Linked DNA regions of Homo sapiens. The protein of the gene in region 3 interacts with the protein of the main gene of each other region in a biochemical or structural test. Each region holds a gene or a part of one and is shown on either strand. Other genes may lie near its edges.

Region 1 (7,000 bases), on a different chromosome or scaffold from region 3:
ATATCATAGATTGTCATCATATATTAATATGTTTGTCTATAGACTGTCTCTCATATTATATTCTACCAATATGAGTGCAGCATCCATATACCATAGACCTAGCATGGTCTTAGATAACTAAGATCAAATAAATACAAAAGTTCAAGGGCAAATAATAACGATAATAATTAGGATTCTCAAAAGCATAAAGGTATGTTTTTAAAACTCTCAGGTATTAATAAAAATCAATACCCAAAATTCTATGTATCCGTAGAAATTTGGTTTACCTTTCTGCAGCCCGAATAACATTATTATATCCTTACAAAAATTTAAAAGTCTTTTGGACACGTGAGAGTGGGTCAAAATATTACATTGACATTTTGTTATTGTTGCTGTTGAGACAGGGCCCGGCTCTGTCATCCAGACTGGAGTGTAGGTGTACAATCTTGGCTCACTGCAATCTCCACCTCCTGGGCTCAAGCTATCCTTCTACCTCAGCTTCTCAAGTAGCTGAGACCACAGATGCACGCCACCAAACCCGGCTAATTTTTGTATTTTTTATAGAGGCAAAGTTTTGCTATGTTGTCCAGGCTGGTCACACACTGACTTTTAATAAATTAAAAGTTAACTTCTAAAGAGAATAAACCCAAAGAAAAGGATGAATTCTTGCTTTCAGGGTTTTAAGAGGAAAAATCTACCTTTATTACCTCCCTGCACCACAAGAAAAGCACATTTGACCTGGATAAGAACATATTCAATATTAAGTCATTACACAAAAATTTACCAAGTGTCTGTTTTAAGTTAAGCACCAGGCTCATCAGGAAAAAAGGGTCAGTAAGCTGTAGCCTCTGGGCCTAATCTGGCCCACTCTGTTTCTGTGCATTCTTATATTTTAATTGATTTTTAAAAATCAAAAGAGTAACAGTAGCCTCTGTAGTGGCTCCTCAGTCTTCTTTGCCAACTCATACTTTTGAATCAACTTTCAAATGTTGGGAGTTTACCAAAGCTTAGAAAGAATCCTTCTCTTCCTATTCTGTACTCTTTTGTTAGATGCTTTCTTCTCAATGCATAACTTCAATTAAATTATCACTTACGCATGAACAATTTCAATATTTCTATCTGTGGCTTCTTTGAAATTTAGGCTTATACATCCAAATTCCCTTTTAACATTTTCATTCAGAATCTCAAACGTTCCTAAAATTCAACATGGCCAGCAGATCTCTGCCCATCCTAATCCCCCCAAGTTCCATCTTCTGCAGGGTTTTCTTTGCTAAATAGCATCTCATCTACCTTAGGTGCCTTAAGTCAGAATAGATAAATCCTCCTTTCTTATTCCTTATATTCAGTGATCACAAAATCCTGTTGATATTGTCTCCTAAATTTCCTTTCATCTGTTCAATTCTCTCCAAATCAACTGTTACCACTCTACTCCAAGCAAACATCATCTCTGGCTTAGAATACTACAATAGCTTCATGACTGATTTTTTTCTCCAATCATATCTTCTACCTTTCAATTTACTCAGCACACTAAAACTGATCTTTCCCTGCTTAAAACATTGCAGTGGCCTTCCATTATTCTTAGAGTCGTAGGAAGAAAACCATTGCTTCTGATGCAATGTTAAGCCAAAGGAACAGAGGATTTTAAGAAAATTGGGCAATTATACTAAAAGTTTCTGAGATGCCAAATAGGATAAGGATTAAAAATGTACACTGAAAACAGTGCTGTGAAGATCACTGATGGCTTTAATAAGAGCAGTGTGGTAGGGGAAAGAAGTTGCTGAGGAGTGGGTATGAAGCAAGTAGACAACTCTTTTTAAACTTTGACTGTCAAGGGGAAGAGAACGACTGGCAGGAAGCTACAGGAATAAATGGAATCAAAGAAGGGATCTTTCCTTTTTCTTTGTTTAAGGTTAGATTAACCAGAACATATGTAAATACTCAAGTGAGCCAGTTCAGGGAAGAAACTGGTAATAAAGGAACAAAAGGGATACACAATGAGAAGGAGGCAGGAAATGGAAACCAGAGAGACAGGTGGAGGGACTCAACCTTAAAGAGAGCTGGAGACCTATCTCCTTCCATTGCAACACTGGAGGAGAGATTATGTGCATTTTCAGGTAAGCATACAACTTTGGGGTTAGGAGGCTGAGGTAATTCTCATTTAATGGGTTTTATTTTCTTTATGAAAAATCACATGACATCATCTGCTAAAAGTAAGAGCAAAAATATGGAAAGATTTGAGGATAATCAAAGATTGGAACAGTCTTCGTGAAGGAGTAAACTGACCACAGAAGATATTAGAGTTGCCAGGATGTGTTGATGGCATGGGGAGACAGGTAGTGGTTATGAATTTATAGTGGTACTAATCTGTACTCGAGATTTTTCTTGTCACACCAAGCACAGATAAAGAGAAAGCATACTGAGTTCATCCAGGGTTGGGGTGGCATCAGGAAGGTGCAACAAAAAAATCAAAGAAGAGCAAAAGAATTTAAGGTATTGATAAGAGTTATTAAAATGAAACAGAGTCTAAACTGGATAGGAAGAAAATGAGAGAATAAAAGGCTAAAGTATAGGGATAAAATAAAGGGATTATTGGTCTGTAGGGCCAGATAAAGTTAACAGTTACAGTAGGAACAGTTAAACAACTCAGCTAGAAATACAGGAACTGGCATTTAGAAAACAGGATGCGTGAAACAGTTTCGTAGATGCAGCAATTTCATCTAATAATAAGTACTACAAAAGTAGATAGGTGCAACAGAACAGAGAATAAGATCACTGGGGGAAAAGATCTCTGTAATAAAGATGAGGTGACAAAGAGATTATCCATACGGATATTGAAATCACATGAGGGAAGATGGTGAGCTAGATGGTGAACTAAGCGCCAAGTTCAGTGACAGGAAGTTGGTAGATGGTGTTAACAAGCTGCAATTAAGTGATATGCCAGAAAGTTATCTTGAAGCCTACTTTCTTCTGCAGTCTATTTTCTTTCCTATTATTCTACTAAAACTTCATTCTCAAAGATTACCAAATATGTTCTCACAGTTAAATTTGTCTTTATCTTCATTCCCTAGGTACCTCTCTGTTGCAACTAATTATCCCTCCATATTGATCCTCTTACCTATCATAGTTTCCACTGTGTACAACCTCTGTTTCTCTTGACTTTCCTAATGCTCCCTTACTCATTTTCTGCATTCTAAGCATTCTCCTTTAACTATCCCACATTTCTTGACCCTGTTTTTCTCCTTCAAGACATTCTTCCTTAAAGACTGCAACAATTCGCCAGGTGCGGTGGCTCACGCCTGTAATCCCAGCACTTTGGGAGGCCGAGGCAGGTGGATCACGAGGTCAGGAGATCGAGACCATCCTGGCTAACACAGTGAAACCCCATCTCTACTAAAAATACAAAAAAAAAAAAAAAAAAAAAATTAGCCGGGCGTGGTAGCAAGCGCCTGTAGTCCCAGCTACTCAGGAGGCTGAGGTAGGACAATGGAGTGAGGAGGCGGCGGAGCTTGCAGTGAGCTGAGATCGCGCCACTGCACTCCAGCCTGGGCGACAAAGCAAGACTCAGTCTCAAAAAAAAAAAAAAAAAAAAAAGACTGCAACAATTCTCACGGCTTCAACTATTTTCAACTATCTTCTTTGGAATAATGACTCCCATAGTTATATCCTTTTATTCCTGTCCCCTACTGGAATTGACATCAGTTCCATATTTGTGATGTCTTACCAAACATTTTAATCCCATCACTTTAAATCTACGAAGTTAAAATTACTCTCTATTGAAAAGTAGTAGTCTATCCTACCATTCAATCATATGGCAGCGCCAATATTTTCCACATCATATAGGTTTCAAATCACCTAGTCATTGCTGATTTGTCTTTATCATCATTCTTATTTACTTTAAATTCATCCACAGAACCTTGCATATGTCCTTACAAAAGGCAAACATTTAATAAATGCATACTGAATCATCAAGTCTATACGGTTTTCTTTTTAACCCATTTCATCCATCTTTTCTTTCTTCATCATTGTGACTTCCACCATCTACATGAGATCCTCATCAGATGTGTCTAGCACTCATCATTCTCATCCCTACAGTATTTTGCTGATGTTGTTTTTCTGATTGCAGCCACTATTGACTATTATGTATCTCTGGCAGACTAAAATTGTTTTCATCCTGTTATCTCTTGTTCAAAGTTTTAGTATTCATCATTGCCAATTCAGCTGGACGCGAAAATCATCTACAATCTAGCTCCAACCAATCTCTACAACAATACCACCCACAACTTCTCAATGTGAAATCTCTGCTCTTACCAGAGAGATCTCTTTGCTATTCTGGAATATGCCATGTATATTACATTATTTACTCAAAGTATTATTATTTTTCTTCTCCAACAATATAAAATTAGTTTCCAATTCTATCTTTTCCATAAAATATCTGCCAGTCACTCCAGCTTAATTTCTTCCAACTTGGAATCCCGAATGTACTCCCATTGGTGCTATTAATGTTGGAAATTATATAATGCTTTCTTTATTGACTTTAATCTATTAGCTAATTTTTTAAAATGAGTATTGTTTCATTCAATAAGACTGAAACTCCTTAAGGTGAGAGGCTTTATAATTTATTTTGCAAATATCCTTCCAATACCAAGCATAGTATTTTATATGATGTCTATATTTCTGCTTTATAAAAAAAACTATACTGTGTGAGCTATTTTCCAATCTGATCACTAAATTTTTCCCTCTCTTTTCCTCTATTTCACCTCCAAAAAATAAAAAAAAGGAAGAAAAATTAAGCTTCTTCCATGTCAGTGTATCAGTGAGAGTCACATAATCTACCACAGACCATAAATTCCTGCAGGGTAGATTATCCTATTCATATCTATATACTCCGCATCTAATTCAGAAACTGGAAATTGCACACAATAATGTTAGCTGAATTGAATCCTACAAGGTATAATTTTTTTAAAAATCCATGATTTCTTGGCAACAAAATGTAATGAGTTCTAAAAATTAATCTGCAGAATGCTAAGAAGTAATAACTCAGGATGAAATTCGTACTCCTTCTATCAATATACAGTTTTTCATATCTAGAAGGAGCCTTCCATTGAAGAGATTAAATAATTAAAGTCCTACAAAGATTCTGTTTTCTGAAAGATCATATTCTGCGGGCTAATGTCAGAACTAAAACTAGAACCAGATTCTGCATCCCATTTTCTAGTCTGGTCACCTAATTACTTTAAAGTAATTACTTTAAACCAGCTGGTGTTCAAACTGAGAAACTACATTTGAAAAATAATACAGTTTAACAGTTTAAAAGAGAAAAGAGGAACATATTAGAAAGATTACAGGCTACTAATTCTGGTTCTTATAATTACAAGTTGACTAGAAAATGTACTTATCCTCTTTGAATCTGTTTCTTCATTTGTTAAATAGGGGAAAATAAAGCTTACTAGGAGAAGTAAATGAAATAACTGCCTGGGAGCATAACAGTTATCATCTTCCATTAAAATATGCAATTGGTCTCTGAGAATAAGGTAAGATAAGGTCTTTTAAAAATGTAATGAGAAATATGGCCGGGTGCAGTGGCTCATGCTTGTAATCCCAGCACCTTGGGAGGCTGAGGTGGGCGGATCATGAGGTCAAGAGATCGAGACCATCCTGGCCAACATGGTGAAACCCCGTCTCTACTAAAAATACAAAAATTAGCCGGGCGTGGTGGCACACGCCTGTAGTCCCAGCTACTTGGGAGGCTGAGGCAGGAGAATCACTTGAACCCAGGAGGTCGAGGTTGCAGCGAGCCACTGCACTCCACCTGGCGACAGAGCGAGACTCCATCTCAAAAAAAAAAAAAAAAAAAAAAGAATGAGAAATTTAATAAAAAGGCACATTAAACATATTGGTAATGTTATATAACTTCTGACATTTTTTACTATTCTAATATTGATATGAGGCATTCATATATTAGAAATAGACTAATAAAAATGTTGAAGGCTGATGAACATTTTATAGATATTTTTGCAAAATATATTTTTTTCAACTGCTAGGAAATCCTTTTCTTACTATCTATGACATAACATTATATACATATAGAACATAATATATCTAAGTACATAACATAGTTATCTATCCAATAATATGTACCATGTATTGCGTACATGATAGATATACCAGTTGTTACTAACTCTAATCCTAATAAACAGTCAAGAAAGTTATGAACTGCCATTCCCATTTTATACTTGAGAAAATGGAGATTTGGAAACATTTAATAACTTACTTAGAATTACACACTCCCCTTGAGAAAGCTTATCTACTTTCTATATTTACTTTAGCATAACCCCATTATAACAGGGTCCAAAAAATTCAAATGTATAAACTAAGAGATTAATGACAGATTTCATTTAGACTCTATAGTATGTGTGTCTGTCTCTCCCTCACACACACACAGACACACTCAAATCACAAAATAAAACACTGTACACAACAAAATGCATACTGAACTGACAATGAAGCATCATCATTCCAGTCAAACCAAACCCCCTGCTGAGAACACTTAAGTTTAGCTCCCCATTTGAATACAAATGGTTATGGGAAGATAGCTGCCAATGGCCAATCACATGATGTCTTAATTCTTATTATTGTAGGATATATAATCACAGGCTTTCATTATAGTACCTCTAAGGTGATGCTTCCCAAATCTCTAGTCTCAGCTCTGACTCAGCCTGAGTTTCATATTCAAATATCTGACTGCTTTCTTGATGTGTTCCTCATCTCAGTTAATTTACCAATATCCACCCAGAAAACTGGCATCATAATTGATCCCCCTTTCTTCCTGCCAATTCATTAACGAAGTCGGTCTATTTTCCCTTCTATATTTCTTTGAATCCAACCCCTACTGTACTGTACCAGCTAGTTCAGGCCCTCAGAATTTCTGAAAAGACAACTGAAATAGGATCCTTATATGTAGATCACTCACCCTCAAATCCAGACTGCCAACGTTATCTAAAATGTACACCTGTGTCAGTCT
Region 2 (7,000 bases), on a different chromosome or scaffold from region 3:
CTTCCCTTTTTTAAACAAAAAAGACTTATTTCTTACAGTGCTAGCATTAAGTATAAGTAGGTATGATTCTACACAAAATGAAAGTTGGATTCCTTTGGTTCCATTTCTTGGGTAACAAGTTGAATAAATTGGGATAGTATTGATCTTTCTGATAACAAATAAAAGGACATGTGAATTATATCAGTTAATGGATATACACAATTCTTAATTCTAAAATGCTGCCTATAGAACTTTAGAAACACTTAAACTAATACAGCACTCAACTTATTTTTTCTTAGAACAACATAGTAATATTGTTCCTGTGAGAAGCCCTTTTTTAGGTCTTTCTGCTCTGTTATTCAGATGTATACAGGGTATAAATAAAGTTTATGACCAAATTGCACCACTTGTGATAAGCAGGATTCACACAATTACATTCACCACTCCTTAGGGAGGACCCATTACCATGGGCATACATAGTATTCACTATAAATGCATTTAGAATAGTCTTTGGCTTAGTATGTGCTAACCAAATTCAGAAATATAAAATAAAATTTGCATAAACATTAAGGGGAAAAAAAAAGAATAATACAATGAATTGTGATGACCTATCTGGCCTTTCTTCTTTGAAATGCAGAAACTCCACCAAACACCTCTTTTGGTCAAATGGTCCCTGGTCCCCTTTAGTTTCCAGGCTCTCCCATATAAGGTGGCTAAAAGTTAAATTTGAGTATCTTAGCTTAGAAGATAGTTCATTCAATTCAAAATGCATTTCTTGAGATGATAAAAAAATATATACGTAAAGTAAAAAATGACTAAGGTGTTCATGAAGCAATACGATAAGTAGAATATCTAGGGATGATGGATAGGGAGTTGATTTTAAACTAAACAACCACCAAAAAGCTATATTAGTGTTTCGTGTGTACATGTGTAAATGTACCTTTCATTTCACAACTTATTTTTAAATAAGTAAAAAAAGAGAAAAAAATTTATTTTTATCTAAAGATTTATCTTTTCCTAAAGATTATTTCTTCTTTTAAACAGATTTTTTATGCTGGTCTACCCTCATCAAGTGCTTCACATAAAATCCCCTTATCCCAAATTGAGTAGAAAATATAGACAGGGCAGGGAATAAAAGACCACTGTATTGACATTTAAAGCTTAGTATCTTTTCTAATATTAAAGTCTGTTGGTGAGTTTTGTTTGGGAAAGGGATCATTTTCTAAACCATATGTGGGGAAAAAAAAACCACCCAAACAGCCTTTCCTTGCCCTTTGTCTTACCTCACTGAGCTTGAGTCCCTTGGGACTCCACACTTCCTTTGGTAGCAATTTTGAGAAATTAATGCTATAACTTCTAATCCAGTATACTGGGTACCAGCATTTCCCTCCCTGAATCCTTCCTTCTAAGTTTCACCACTCCCAAGGGAGGGACTCATTATTATGGGCAGCTACAGCATTACTGATAGCCCTAAAATCATTTCCACAGACTAAAGGTAGAGATGTCAAGTCAGGATAGAAGATTAAATTTAACTACAACAGAGAAAAAGTGAATGGAGAGGAGAGAAATTAGTAATTGACATTGTCATTCTATTTACACACCAACCTAATAAACTAGTTAAACATCAAGTTAATGTCTGCCCAGAGGATATCACAATTTACCAACATAAAAGATTAAAAACAAGCAGCAACTTTCATATAAAATTAATAAAGACAAATGAAAAAGAAATTGTCAGTAGCATCTATCTCCTCGATGTGTCTGAACTGCACGTTATCAACTAGTCCATTAGTACAGCAGCTTGCTAAAAATTGACTTTGGTTCAAGCTTAGTTAAAAAACAAAACAAAACATAAAAAAACACACCACACAAAAAGGGTGAATGGACATTTGTTAGTTTCCCTGCTTGCAGTTCACTGATTTTGGAAGGATTTTAGGGAAGGTGAAGGGTAAGAGGAGGAAATTTAGGGGTGGTAATTAAATATCTGTGAAATAAAACACGATAGAAATAAACTAAAAGAAATATTTTAAAGGGGACTAAAATGTTTCTGACCTTTTAACAGACTGTCTCCCACTTGAATCACACACAAAAGTACACATTGTGTCTGTATTTACTGCCTTACTGGACAATGGGAAAGAGACAAGTACACAGAATCCAAGCTCCCTTGTGGACACAAACAAAAGCAATCAGAATAAAAATCACCTGTAAGTTCTCTCTACATCCCCAGCTCGAAAGGGAGAAAAAGTGCAGTCTTGGGACCACCAGAGATTTAAGCAAGCACCCACAGCCACCAAATGGGAACCTTTAACTCCAATAAGAAGGGGAACTTAGATGAGCTGCACTGCAGTGATCCAGTCTTTTGGAAAATTTTTTGGTACAGATGGCATAACAACAGTACACTGACAAAAAAAGGAATTTAATCTCCAAGTTACCCTTATTCCTCTTCATCCACTTTCACAAACTCTTCCTTTTCAATGGGCTCATTTATATAGTCTACAAACACCCTGAAAATAATTACAGAGCTAATTACTTTCTACATTGAATAAAGAGATGTGTATTGCCATTTAGACCTACCTAGCAGGAGCATCATGAACAAACCAAGGAGACACTTAAGGTGTGTGCAAAGTTCCTGCTCAAAGTCCTTCTTCAAAGGTTCTACAGATCCCAGCCCGGCTAATAAGTGCCTCCTTTAGTCAGAGAACCAAGAAGAATCTCAGGGTTAGAGGAATTTATAAACCATCCAGTGGAAAGGAAGTCTGTGGCTCTCTAGAGGAAAAGGTGGTAACCTTATACCCTTCTCATCACACCTCTTTTGTATATATTATCAATGGAAAATAGTCTAGTAGAATTCCTTTAGAAAATAAAAGAAGGGAAAAGTTTCCCAATTTCAGTAAGTCAGTTTTTTTTCTTTGCCAAGTTAGTTAAAGTTTGGATGAAAAACTTCCACAAAATGGAACAAACAAACAAACACACCAACAGCAGGAGCATTTTTCAGGAGATAAGAAATCAGGAGAACCACCAAGTCAGGTGTCTGCAGTAGTCTTTGCTCTTGGGAACCAAATCCTGCCCTGCAACATGTACAGCTGTTCCCATTGAAAGTAGCAGAAAGCAGCACTGTTGCACCACAGGAACTGGGCCTCAGGGTCATTCAATGATTTGGGGGTGAGTGAGAGCTACAGTTCAGCAGGAATTCCTTCCTACACAAAAGTGCTCCAAAGGCACCACCTGATGTGGGGAGGGGAAGGGGCGTGTGTGGAATGGGAGTGTTTGCACACACTGCCTTCAGCTTCTGCACCAAGCCTCTTGCATAAGTGGCAAAAGAAAATAATTTTCTAGCACCTCTGTAAGAGTCATCAAGGATAAGGAAACCAGCAAGAACATTCCCCACAGTTAAGAACAGAAGTCTCCCCTTACCCCAAAACCCTCCCTCCCCACAGTGTGGGAGCTCACTGAAATAGGATCCAGGAGCAAGAGATAATAAACATGTCCAAACTATATATATAAAACAATAACAACAACAACAATAATAATACAGTAATACAGGCCTGCCTAAATTGTACCAGTTAAGAAAGGAACCCCCAACACAATTGATACGATTATAAACACCTTGTTATGACTTAATGGCCTGTACAACAGACCCATAAAAATGATTTTTTTTTTTTAAGAAAAAAAGAAATTTAGACAAACAAGAAATCCCCTTCCTATATTGGAATTGGTAACCCACCTTAACTTGTCATCATGACTGCTGGAAATGATAAGTAGTCCTTTCACTTATTTTTGTTTGTTTTTGATTTTTTTGTTTCTTTTTTTTTTTTTTTTTTTAATTTTTGGTTAGAAAGTTCTCCAATCCATGAAGCAATCCTGAAAAGACAGTGTTTTATTACAAAATTAGGCAAATGTTCCGTCTCCATCCTTTCTTTCTTTTTCTGGTATGTGTGTATGGGTGTGTGTGGTTTTTTTTTTTTTTTCTCCCTTCTCTCCTTTGCCCTCACAACACGGCGAGAGGAAGCCAATCACATTTTTCAGTTTATTAACCTGGCTGGCAGTCCAATCACACTGCAGAGTGAAAAAGGCTTCTGGCAGCCCAGCTCTGCCCAGCTCACTGTGCCTTGGAGGCGGTGGTGGTGGTGGACGCAGCCCCGCTGGCAGAGGCCACTGTGAAGAGAGAGTTCTGGATGGACTCAGCAGAGGTGGAGGTGGCGTGAAGGCTGGCTACAGGTGCAGAGTTCCCTGCAGATGCTGCGGCGGCAGAGACCAAGCTAACAGGGTTGCTGGTGAGCAGAGAGAGGTTCTGAGGGTTCAGGAACAGAGGGGCAGTCACGATGTTGGGGGCTCCTCCCGCATTGGCAAATACCAGGTTCCCAGTTGCATCAAGTGATGTTATTGGAAGAGAGCCACCAGAAGCAAGAGCTACAGACAAAAACCCCCCAAAACAGGCAGGAATGAAAACATTAACATCATCCTGGAGAAGCCAAATAACACATCAAAAGTCTATCATTTTCCTACAACCCACCAGGAAAAAGTATAGCCCTTCACTGAATTTTTTTCCTCAAACACAGTGCTATATTGATACCAATTGTAGTTTATTTTTAATTTTGAAGAGCCTAAAAGACTGAAATGTCTAATTTAATGGGCACAAGCAGGGGTAGAAGACAGCTAATAACTGTCTAATGAATTAGAGTCATGTTCGTGTCTTGAAATCACCAGTTTATTTCATTTACCTAGACATATTTGATAAATCCAATAATTTTGTCTTTAATGAAGACTGCTGATTTTAAACTACCTCTGTTCAAAGGACAAACTAGCTGAAGTGATTAAAGCATTAACAACAGGAGGTGAGTGGTGGGCATTACAGCCTGAGGCCTGCCTCCTGTTAGATCAGTGGCGGCATTAGATTCTCATAGAGCACGATCTGAGGTGGAAACAGTGTCATCCAGAAACCACGCCACCACAATGTGGCTATGGAAAAACTGTCTTCCAGAAAACCAGTCCCTGGTGCCAAAAAGGTTGGGGACCACTGCTTTATATTATGATATACAAGATGAAAATCATCTTGCAAAAAGGCTTTAGTTCTAAAATAAATTATGTATCACCAAATAAAGTTAAAAGGTATAATTAATTTCTCACTTCCTGAGGCTAAATACTTGATTTCTATGACTTGTGCAAAGGAGAATGATGAATCTATTGTAGCAGGAAATTAGACATAATGATGTAGGTGGGTGATCTAAGTCTAGGATGTGCTTTAATGGGTGAGAAATTTTCTATGATGCTGTTGCTTCCCCAAAGAAGGCATCATCAACATTTTATTTAAAATAATCGAGACTCTCATTTAGTATCTCAACCTGTTGTCTGGCAACATTCCTAAATCTCTCTAGCCATATAACCTCACTCCTACATGTAGATTTGAGGGATTTTCTAACGGCATTACACATTTGATTTCTTACATAAAATATAGCTGAAGGGAATGCCTCTGACTTTGGCCTTGCTCATACAAATAGTACAGAACAGTGAGACAGTGCAGCTTGAAGTTTTTCTGAGATTCCAAACTTAGTATCTTTTCAGAGTGTCAATCATGCCCTAGGGAAGACATTTTGCCTTTGTAGTATCAACACAGCACAGAAACATTCAATAAAGCAGAAGAAAAAGTGATTTATCACAAATTCTATTGCAAAAAAAAATTATTATATAACAAAAGCTTTAGAGCTAACCAATTCAGGTATGATTTAGTCAATCAGAAAGTCAATATAATGTAAGGTAATCTAGGCCATGGTTTGGTTTTGTCTGTAATTAACATTCTCTAGTACACTGTTAGAGATATTACCTGTGAAATATTAATCTTAATTTAGGTTGGCTAATAGTTATTTTTGGCCCTGAGAATTCTCATTTATGCACAAAACACTTTAATTTTTTTTTTTTTTTTTTAGAAACAGGGTCTTACTGTGTTACCCACGCTGGGGTGCAATGGTTATTCACAGGCATGATCATAGCACACTGCAGTCTTGAACTCATGGCCTCAAGTGATCCTCCTGCCTCAGCCTCTTAGCAAAACTATTTTAAGAAAAAAATTCTAATTAATTAGTGATGTCTCTCAAATTGTCTCCCTGAATCACATAACAGTAAACATTTTTAGACAGAAAGCTTAGGTACTAAACAAGTGGAACCCTTCAGTATATGGAATGAATATTGCCCTGGGTAACATGCTAAAAGGCAAAAGGAACCCAGCTGAGCTTGGAAAAGAGACATTATAATCCAAGAGAATATATGTTCTACACTAACGGCGATATAAAAAGAGCAGAACTTAATGAGAATTAAAAGCACTCCTGAGGTCCACCTGATGTGTTCCAATGTTTGTTCATTACAGGACTTTCCCATGCACAGCTTTCTCAGGAGTGCAGCTGGGAACTGGAGAGTCTTACTTGGTCAAGTTTGCCTAGAGACGGGTTTTAGATTAATACTTGGGATAAACTTATCAGGGGAAAAAAATCTGGCTTCAAGTCTACTCACATAAGATCAATATTAGCATGAAAGTTCTGGTTTTTTACCATATACCAAACTAAGTATATTTCCTGCTTTTACTCACATACTAACACCTATACTTTTCTTACAAAGCTTTTTTACGAGGACATTTTCTTAGTTCTCAAGAACAAGTTAGTCAGCATTTGACTCTTTCCCATCACTTTTACCTCTAGCAAAGCAGACTTCCTCTATCTCTGTCTCAAGCACACACACACACACACACACACACACTCACACACACGTGCATGCCACCAAATTAAGAAAAAGGCTTCTACTGACCTTGAATAGTTGCCAGTGTACTGTTGCTCATTAGAGCTGGGCTGAGAGCACCGCTCAGGGTCCCTGGATTCAGACTGAGTAAGGCACCTCTGCAAGTCCAAAAGAGGAGTCACTTTATTACCATGCAGACGCAGGTCTCATTTTGACAACACACCAAAAGGAACTTACAAAACGAAAATCCAGCTGGGGAAATAGGTGGAAATATTTATTTTTCTTTACTCTTCTATGG
Region 3 (7,109 bases):
GCCCCGTCAACAGATGTTGCCCTGGGTGGGGTGAGGCAAGGGAAAGCAGGCCGACTGCTGAGGGGCACCAAGGTGGTGGCAAGAGGCATGGGGATGGAGGGCTCCAGTTGCCCGGGCCTCCCCTGTGCCAAGCTCTGGTCTGGGTGCTTTCCAGGACTTCCTGTCTGAAATCGCACAGCTCGTTGTTGAGGTAGGCAGTTCACAGGCGAGTAAACAGATGCTTAGAGAGGTTAAGTGACTTGCGTAAGGTCACCCAGAGTGGCAGAGCTGAGATTTGACCCTTCCGACTTCTGGTTCTTTCTCCCATCTTCGTGGCTCAGAAAGCTCTCACCTTTTTCTCTAGGTGTGTGACTCTGGGGTGTAACGCGTGGGCAGCTAGGGATGCTGATGCTGGAGAAGGGATCCTGGCACCTTCTGAGGGTGAGAGCGGCCCCAGTGGGCAGGAGTGTGGGGCTGGTTGCAGGTGCTCTAGCCCCCTACCCCTTTTTCTGCTGTGCTTAGGCTAGGCTCCATATATTGGAGGTGTGGGCCTGTGGTTTTCTCTCTCTCAGGGGAGGGTGCCCGTGGGCAGTGGAGGTGGCTGGCATAGGGTGGAGGTTGGATGTGGGTAGTTTGTTTTCCCTCTCTTTGGTACTGGTTTCGATTCTCTGCCGAGGCCTTCTCCACCCCTGGGGTGTAGGGGGCTGGGGCCCAGGTGTCTCTCTGAGGGTCATAGCTTCTGATGGACCTTCTGAGGCAGAGTCTGTGCCCTTTTGGGCCCACCCTGGTCATCCCTACCCTTGCCCATCCCTGTTCTCTGGTCTTTCTGGCCCTTGGCCTATTTCTGTGACCTTTAGCCCTCCTGCGGCTCAAGGCCCTCCCCAGGGAGCTGAGTAAATTTGCACTGAAATTTGCAGGCAGAGCTGGGTTAGGCTTTTTGGAGGCTCTGATAGGGGTCTGGGGAGGCCTTCCAGCCTTGCCCTGTAGTGTGTGTGGGTGGTGGGCTGGGGGTGAGGTGGGGGTAGTGGGGATTGAAGTTTGATTCAATTTCAAACTCCACTGGGGCAGAGTTGAGGTGGCTGTGGTTTTCTCTTCTCTGGGAGCAAGGGTGGGTTCCAGAGGGTCCAGGCTGGACTGACTAAACTGGCCTCCCGACCCCCAAAGGCTGGGTCAGGATGCCTGAGATCTGGAGTGATGGCTTTCTGGGCCTCAGCGTGGGTTACAGAGGCCTCACTTTGGGTTAGCTGCCCCTTGGGCCTCACCTTGAGAGAGGCAGGCCTCTGTGGATGTGAATTCACCTGAGTGTTTGTGGACCTGGTGCATGGGCTGGGCCCACAGGGAGGACCTCAGAGCATCTTCTGGCAGAAGCAGCAGGTACAAGGGCCACCCTGGCTGTGTGAGGTTCGGAGAATGTACAGTTTGGGAGACTGTGGGGCTGTGGTTGTGTCTTTGGGGAGCTGTGTACTGGGGCCCATGCATGCAGTTTCTGAGCTGTGTTCATTGTGTGGTGGAGCCCAGGTGTGGAGAGATGGTATCTCCAGGTTCCTTCTCCTCACATGCATGCCTGCACACACACAGGCTGGGGCTGCAGGCGTGCTCTTGCCCACCCAGATGTTTTCTGTAGACCTGCATGCATGAGTTTGTATGTGTATTTGTGTGTGAGGGTCCAACTGTAGGAACTGATGAGGTTCTGCCAGCCTCTTCTTCCCTTGCATGGCTCCCCCAGCTCCAGTTCCCGTTGTGTGGGGCCCCACAGGAGTTGGGAGGGGGCCAGGGCGGCAACTGGTCCAGTGGGTGGGGCCCCTGTTCCTCTGACATCAGCCCTCTCAGCCTAGGAGGGAATTGGCAGGGGCCTGGGGTAGGAAGGGAGCTCTTTATTCAGGAGTGAGGAGAGAGGCCCTATGATTGTCATAATGAGTAACAGTAAAAATCGTGGTTATTAGCAAGGTCCAGATTTTACTCCTGGGGCAGCCTCCCCTCCCTAGCCCAGTACCTGTCCCCTCCCACCCTCTCTCCCTCAGTTCCACACAGGCTGGCTGGCTCAGCTGGGCCAGAATTCCTGGCCTCTTCCACAGTGGCCTTGGCAGGAACTCCCCCTTCCCAGGCCTGGTCTTCAACCAAATGCTGGCCATGTGCTTGTCCCCTGGACTCCAGATTTGAGGCTAGAGTCTGGAGTTCAGAGCTTGGAACCTAGTGTAGCCTGAGCTTGGGGTGGAGTGGCAAGGTATAGGGGGTGTTGGAAATGGACAGTCCTTATTTTGAGTCTCTGTGGCCCTGTTTCTTTTCTTTCTTTCCTCTTCTTTTTAAAACAGCTTTATTGAGATATAATTCACATACCATAAAATTTACCCATTAAAGTGTACAATTCAGTGGTTTTAGTATATTCAGAGTTGTGCAACTACCACCACAATCAATTTTAGAACACTTTCATCACCCCAGAAAGAGCCCCCATACCCAGCAACAGTCACTTCCCATATTCCTCAAATCCACGCCCCAGCTCCTGGTAACCACAAGTCTGCTTTCTGTCTCTATAAATGTGCCTATCCTGGATATTTCATATAAATGGAATCCTACAATACATGGTCTTTGTAACCGGTATAATGTTTTCAAGGAATATCCATATCATAGTATCAGTACTTCATTCTTTTTTTGGCAGAATAATGTTCCATTGTAGGGACATACAACATTTTATTTATTCGTCAGTTGATGGACTTTTGGGTTGATTCCACTTTTTGACTATTAGGAATAACGCTGCTGTGAATGTTCATGTATAAGTCTTTCTGTGGACTTACGTTGTCATATCTCTTGGGTAGATACCTAGGAGTAGAATTGCTGGGTCATATGCCATCGCTGTGTTTAACCTTTTGAGGAACTGCCAAACTGTTTTCCAAAACAGCTATTCTATTTTACATTCCCACCAGCAATATATGAGGATTCCAATTTCTCCACATCCTCGCCAGTACTTGTTATTATCTGTCTTTCTTATTAGAGCTAGCCTAGTGGGTATGAAGTGGTATCTCATTGTGCTTTTTTTTTTTTTGAGATGGAGTCTCACTCTGTTGCCCAGGCTGAAGTGCAGTGACACAATCTCGGCTCACTGCCTCCCAGGTTCAAGCAATTCTCGTGCATCAGCCTCCTGAGTAGCTGGGATTACAGGCATGTGCCACCACGCCTGGATAACTTTTGTATTTGTGTGTGTGTTTTTTTTTTTTTGGAGACGGAGTCTTGCTCTGTTACCCATGCTGGAGTGCAATGGTGTGATCTCAGCTCACTGCAACCTCCACCTCCCTGGTTCAAGCGATTCTCCTGCCTCAGCCTCCCAAGTAGCTGGGATTACAGGCACCTGCCACCATGCGCAGCTAATTTTTTAGTAGATTTTTGTATTTTTTAGTAGAGATGGGGTTTCGGCATGTTGGTCAGGCTGGTCTCAAACTCCTGACCTCAGGTGATCCACCTGCCTCAGCCTCCCAAAGTGCTGGGATTATAGGTGTGAGCCACCGCACCCAACTGACTTTCGTATTTTTAGTAGAGACAGGATTTTGCCATGTTGGCCAGGCTGGTCTTGAACTCCTGACTTAGGTGATCTACCTGCCTTAGCCTCCCAAAGTGGTGGGATTACAGGCGTGAGCCACCGCCCCCAGCCTCATTGTGCTTTTGATTGGCCATGTTTCTTTTTGTCTGTCTCTTTTCTTTTGTCTTTCATATATGTATTTTTCATATATAAATACATGCATATGTATTTATATATAACCTGTACCCAAAATGGATTTGAAACATCCTCTTGTCCTCGTATGGATATGTTCTTCGTGTTCTCTCTCTTTGCTCTTGTTGCTGCCTATCTGTCTCACTGTGTTATGGAATCTCTGGGTTCATCTCTGTCTCTGTCTCTACCCCATGGTATTATCTGTGCATATCCTCTGGTGCCAGCTGTTCAAACAGGGTGTGGATCTGTATTCACACTGGTGAAGGGGGCATCTGGCCTTTCATCTTCTGCCCACCTCCCACCCCAGTTCATGTGTTTTGCTTCTGCAGACAGAAGTATGTGGGTGAACCTTGAGATCAATCTCTCCTTCATTGCCTGGGGGTAGGAGGCTTCCTGGGCGGTCCTTGCCCTCCTACACATCGCCTACCCCTGGACCATCCATGCTGTTAAGCATTGGAGGTGATACCTAGGAGTCCTTGGTTCCCATTTTCCTATTAGTGTGTACGTAAATGGGCCTCCTCCCAGGGCCTGTGGGACAAACCCGTCTGGGGTGCTGGGGCTTGGATCTGGGGGGGAAGTGGTGTAAGAGGGGCCCCCTGGCTTAGGAGTCATTTTTCTGAGAAGTGCCAATGCTTTAGGGAAGCGGCTTTTCCTCCCCCTCCCTCTTCCCCCCCAGCACACGTTCTCTGCATCTTGACCTCAGGTAACCCTCACTGGGGGAAGGAGGGCCAGCTGCCCGTTTCTGCTGCAGTGATCCCTTGAGGTGGCACTGTGGACCCTTTCCCCTCAGGACTGTGGGTGAGAGGCCCTCCAAGGTTCTGGGCTCTGTCCCTGTCTCCCCAGCCTGGCTGTGCTATCTGCCACCCCCAGCAGTGTCTGGGCCCTGCTTCCAGGTCATCTCTGCCAGCCAGGCATGGTGCCAGCTGTCTGCTCAGCTGGGTGCCACGGGAAAATCTCCGGCAGCCCAGGTTGGGGAGCTCCACGGGGAATGCCTGTGTGCCTGTTCTTCAGTGCCCACTCACCTGTCTTTCTTTTTTCTGCAGCATCACAGGACATGGCCCCCTCAGCCACCTAGCTGGGGCCCATCTAGGAGTGGCATCTTTTTTGGTGCCCTGAAGGCCAGCTCTGGACCTTCCCAGGAAAAGTGCCAGCTCACAGAACTGCTTGACCAAAGGACCGGCTCTTGAGACATCCCCCAACCCACCTGGCCCCCAGCTAGGGTGGGGGCTCCAGGAGACTGAGATTAGCCTGCCCTCTTTGGACAGCAGCTCCAGGACAGGGCGGGTGGGCTGACCACCCAAACCCCATCTGGGCCCAGGCCCCATGCCCCGAGGAGGGGTGGTCTGAAGCCCACCAGAGCCCCCTGCCAGACTGTCTGCCTCCCTTCTGACTGTGGCCGCTTGGCATGGCCAGCAACAGCAGCTCCTGCCCGACACCTGGGGGCGGGCACCTCAATGGGTACCCGGTGCCTCCCTACGCCTTCTTCTTCCCCCCTATGCTGGGTGGACTCTCCCCGCCAGGCGCTCTGACCACTCTCCAGCACCAGCTTCCAGTTAGTGGATATAGCACACCATCCCCAGCCAGTAAGTCTGGGTGTGGGGGCTGGGGTGGGAAGGGACTGTGGAGGGTGGCAGGCCTCAGAGCTTGGGCTCTGGGCACGTCTGTTCTGCTGTGAGTGGAAGGCACGGTGAGCGACAAGGTCTTCTCCAGTTGGGGTGACCATCATTTGAGGTCTTAAAAATGAAAGCCCTATGGCCTATAGGCTGATCATGGTGGTTGTGTTTGAAGTTGGGGGTGGCAGAGGGGGAGATGAAACCATGCTGTTCTGGCCTGCAGTGGCCCTCGCACCCCTCTTCTGTGCTCTGCTGTTGGGGCCTTATAAATAGCTCCAAGGACTGGACACACAGGTTGGAGGTGGGTAAACAAACCTCTTGACATTTGATGGAAATGGCAGCTCTACCTAGAGTGAGAGCAGCACACCACCTACGCCCCACCCCCACTCAGTGCCTCTGAGGGAAAGGGCTTGAAGGAGCAGACCGAGGAAGGCTGGCTGGAACCCCACCTCTCCCCCTGCCAGCTCCACCCCCGGCCATGCTAGGATGTGCTTCCCTTTGTGGGGAGGATGAGAGGGAGGGGCCCACGGTCTAGCTGGGTGGATAGGGTGAGTGTCCCAGGAGGGGACACTTGGCCTGGACTCTGGCCTCGGACGCATGCATGGTCTTGGCAGGGCCTGTGTTTTCCTTGCCTCCACCCTCTGCCATGGAGGTCACTTGTTGGCTGGGCAGGGGTCTCAGTACCCTTCGCCGGCTGGCCGAGCCAGGTAGTGGGAGGTGGCGGCAGCTCTGGCCAGCTGGCAGAGTCCAGGGCTGGGGCCTGCCAGGCCGCTTACAGTAACTCTGGCCCCCAGGGCCCAGCTGGGCGCCAGGCCAGGGCTGGGGGGAGGAGGGAGCCGGGGCCTGGCCTGGGACGGGAGAGGGTGGAAGCAGCAGAATGGGCCATGGGCTGCTGGCTGGCCGGCTGGTCAGCTGCTGACCTGGGAAACGTGTCCCCACCTCTCCTGGCCAGCAGGGACTGCACACCTTGCCCTGTGCACCCACCACCCCTCTCACGGCTGCTGGCAAGCTGCCTGGCACCACTGCCCTATGTGCCTGGCTGGGCTGGGTCAGTGCCCCCTTCTCAGTGTGGGGGCAGCGCTCTCTCCCCGGAGCCAGGGAGTCTCTTTGTCCCTGGGGCAGGCCCTGGCTGGGCGCCTCACTGCCCGCACTGGCTGGGTGCCCACCACCACCACTGCTTCCTGGATCGCCTCCTCTGGCTTAGCTGTGGCCCCCTCCCTCCCAGGCTCCACCAGCCACCAGGAGCAGGGACTCTATGTCTGTGTTTCTTTGTGTTCCCCGCCCTTTATGCCCTGGGGCCAGGGGGCAGGCAGGTGCTGCCTCAGTTTCTCCTGCCACCCCTTATCAAACCTTCATCTTCTGTTTCTGCTGTCTCTTCTCTCCACCTCATATAGGAGTATGGGATGGATGGAGTCTGGGGACTCTGATTCTGGTCTGGTCCTATAGTCTGTGTTAGTGATGGGGAGAGGCCAGCCTCTGGGGTTTGGGGCTACTAGGGAATGCATTGGTGTATCTTTGTAGAATATTCACTGCATTTAAAGGGACTGTGATTTACATTCTGGACTTGGATCACTGGAACTAGAAGACTGTCTGCTTCCTGACAGGGTAGGGTTTTATTTTTATTTATTTATTTATTTTTTTGAGACAGAGTCTTGCTCTGTCACCGAGGCTGGAGTGCAGTGGTGCGATCTCGGCTCACTGCAACTTCCGCCTTCCGGAATCAAGCAACTCTTCCGCTTCGGCCTCCCATGTAGCTGGGACTACAGGCGTACGCCACCATGCCCGGCTACTTTTGGTATTTTTAGTAGAGACGG

Evidence for each region.
Region 1: the proteins of RARA (region 3) and LRIF1 form a complex in vitro, tested with the Homo sapiens proteins (one study listed by BioGRID).
Region 2: the proteins of RARA (region 3) and POU2F1 form a complex in vitro, tested with the Homo sapiens proteins (one study listed by BioGRID).

Annotation. Positions count from the first base shown.
Region 1 is NC_000001.11:110,953,923-110,960,922, forward strand, and holds part of LRIF1 (ligand-dependent nuclear receptor-interacting factor 1), read right to left. Parts: intron 1-7,000. UniProt on the Homo sapiens protein: Together with SMCHD1, involved in chromosome X inactivation in females by promoting the compaction of heterochromatin.
Region 2 is NC_000001.11:167,412,886-167,419,885, reverse strand, and holds part of POU2F1 (POU domain, class 2, transcription factor 1), read right to left. Parts: intron 6,861-7,000; coding exon 6,772-6,860; intron 6,025-6,771; coding exon of another isoform or gene 6,008-6,024; exon of another isoform or gene 4,387-6,007; coding exon 4,076-4,386; 3' UTR 1-4,075. UniProt on the Homo sapiens protein: Transcription factor that binds to the octamer motif (5'-ATTTGCAT-3') and activates the promoters of the genes for some small nuclear RNAs (snRNA) and of genes such as those for histone H2B and immunoglobulins.
Region 3 is NC_000017.11:40,326,132-40,333,240, forward strand, and holds part of RARA (retinoic acid receptor alpha), read left to right. Parts: exon of another isoform or gene 1-1,353; intron 1,354-4,420; exon of another isoform or gene 4,421-4,480; intron 4,481-4,725; 5' UTR 4,726-5,087; coding exon 5,088-5,265; intron 5,266-7,109. UniProt on the Homo sapiens protein: Receptor for retinoic acid. Retinoic acid receptors bind as heterodimers to their target response elements in response to their ligands, all-trans or 9-cis retinoic acid, and regulate gene expression in various biological processes.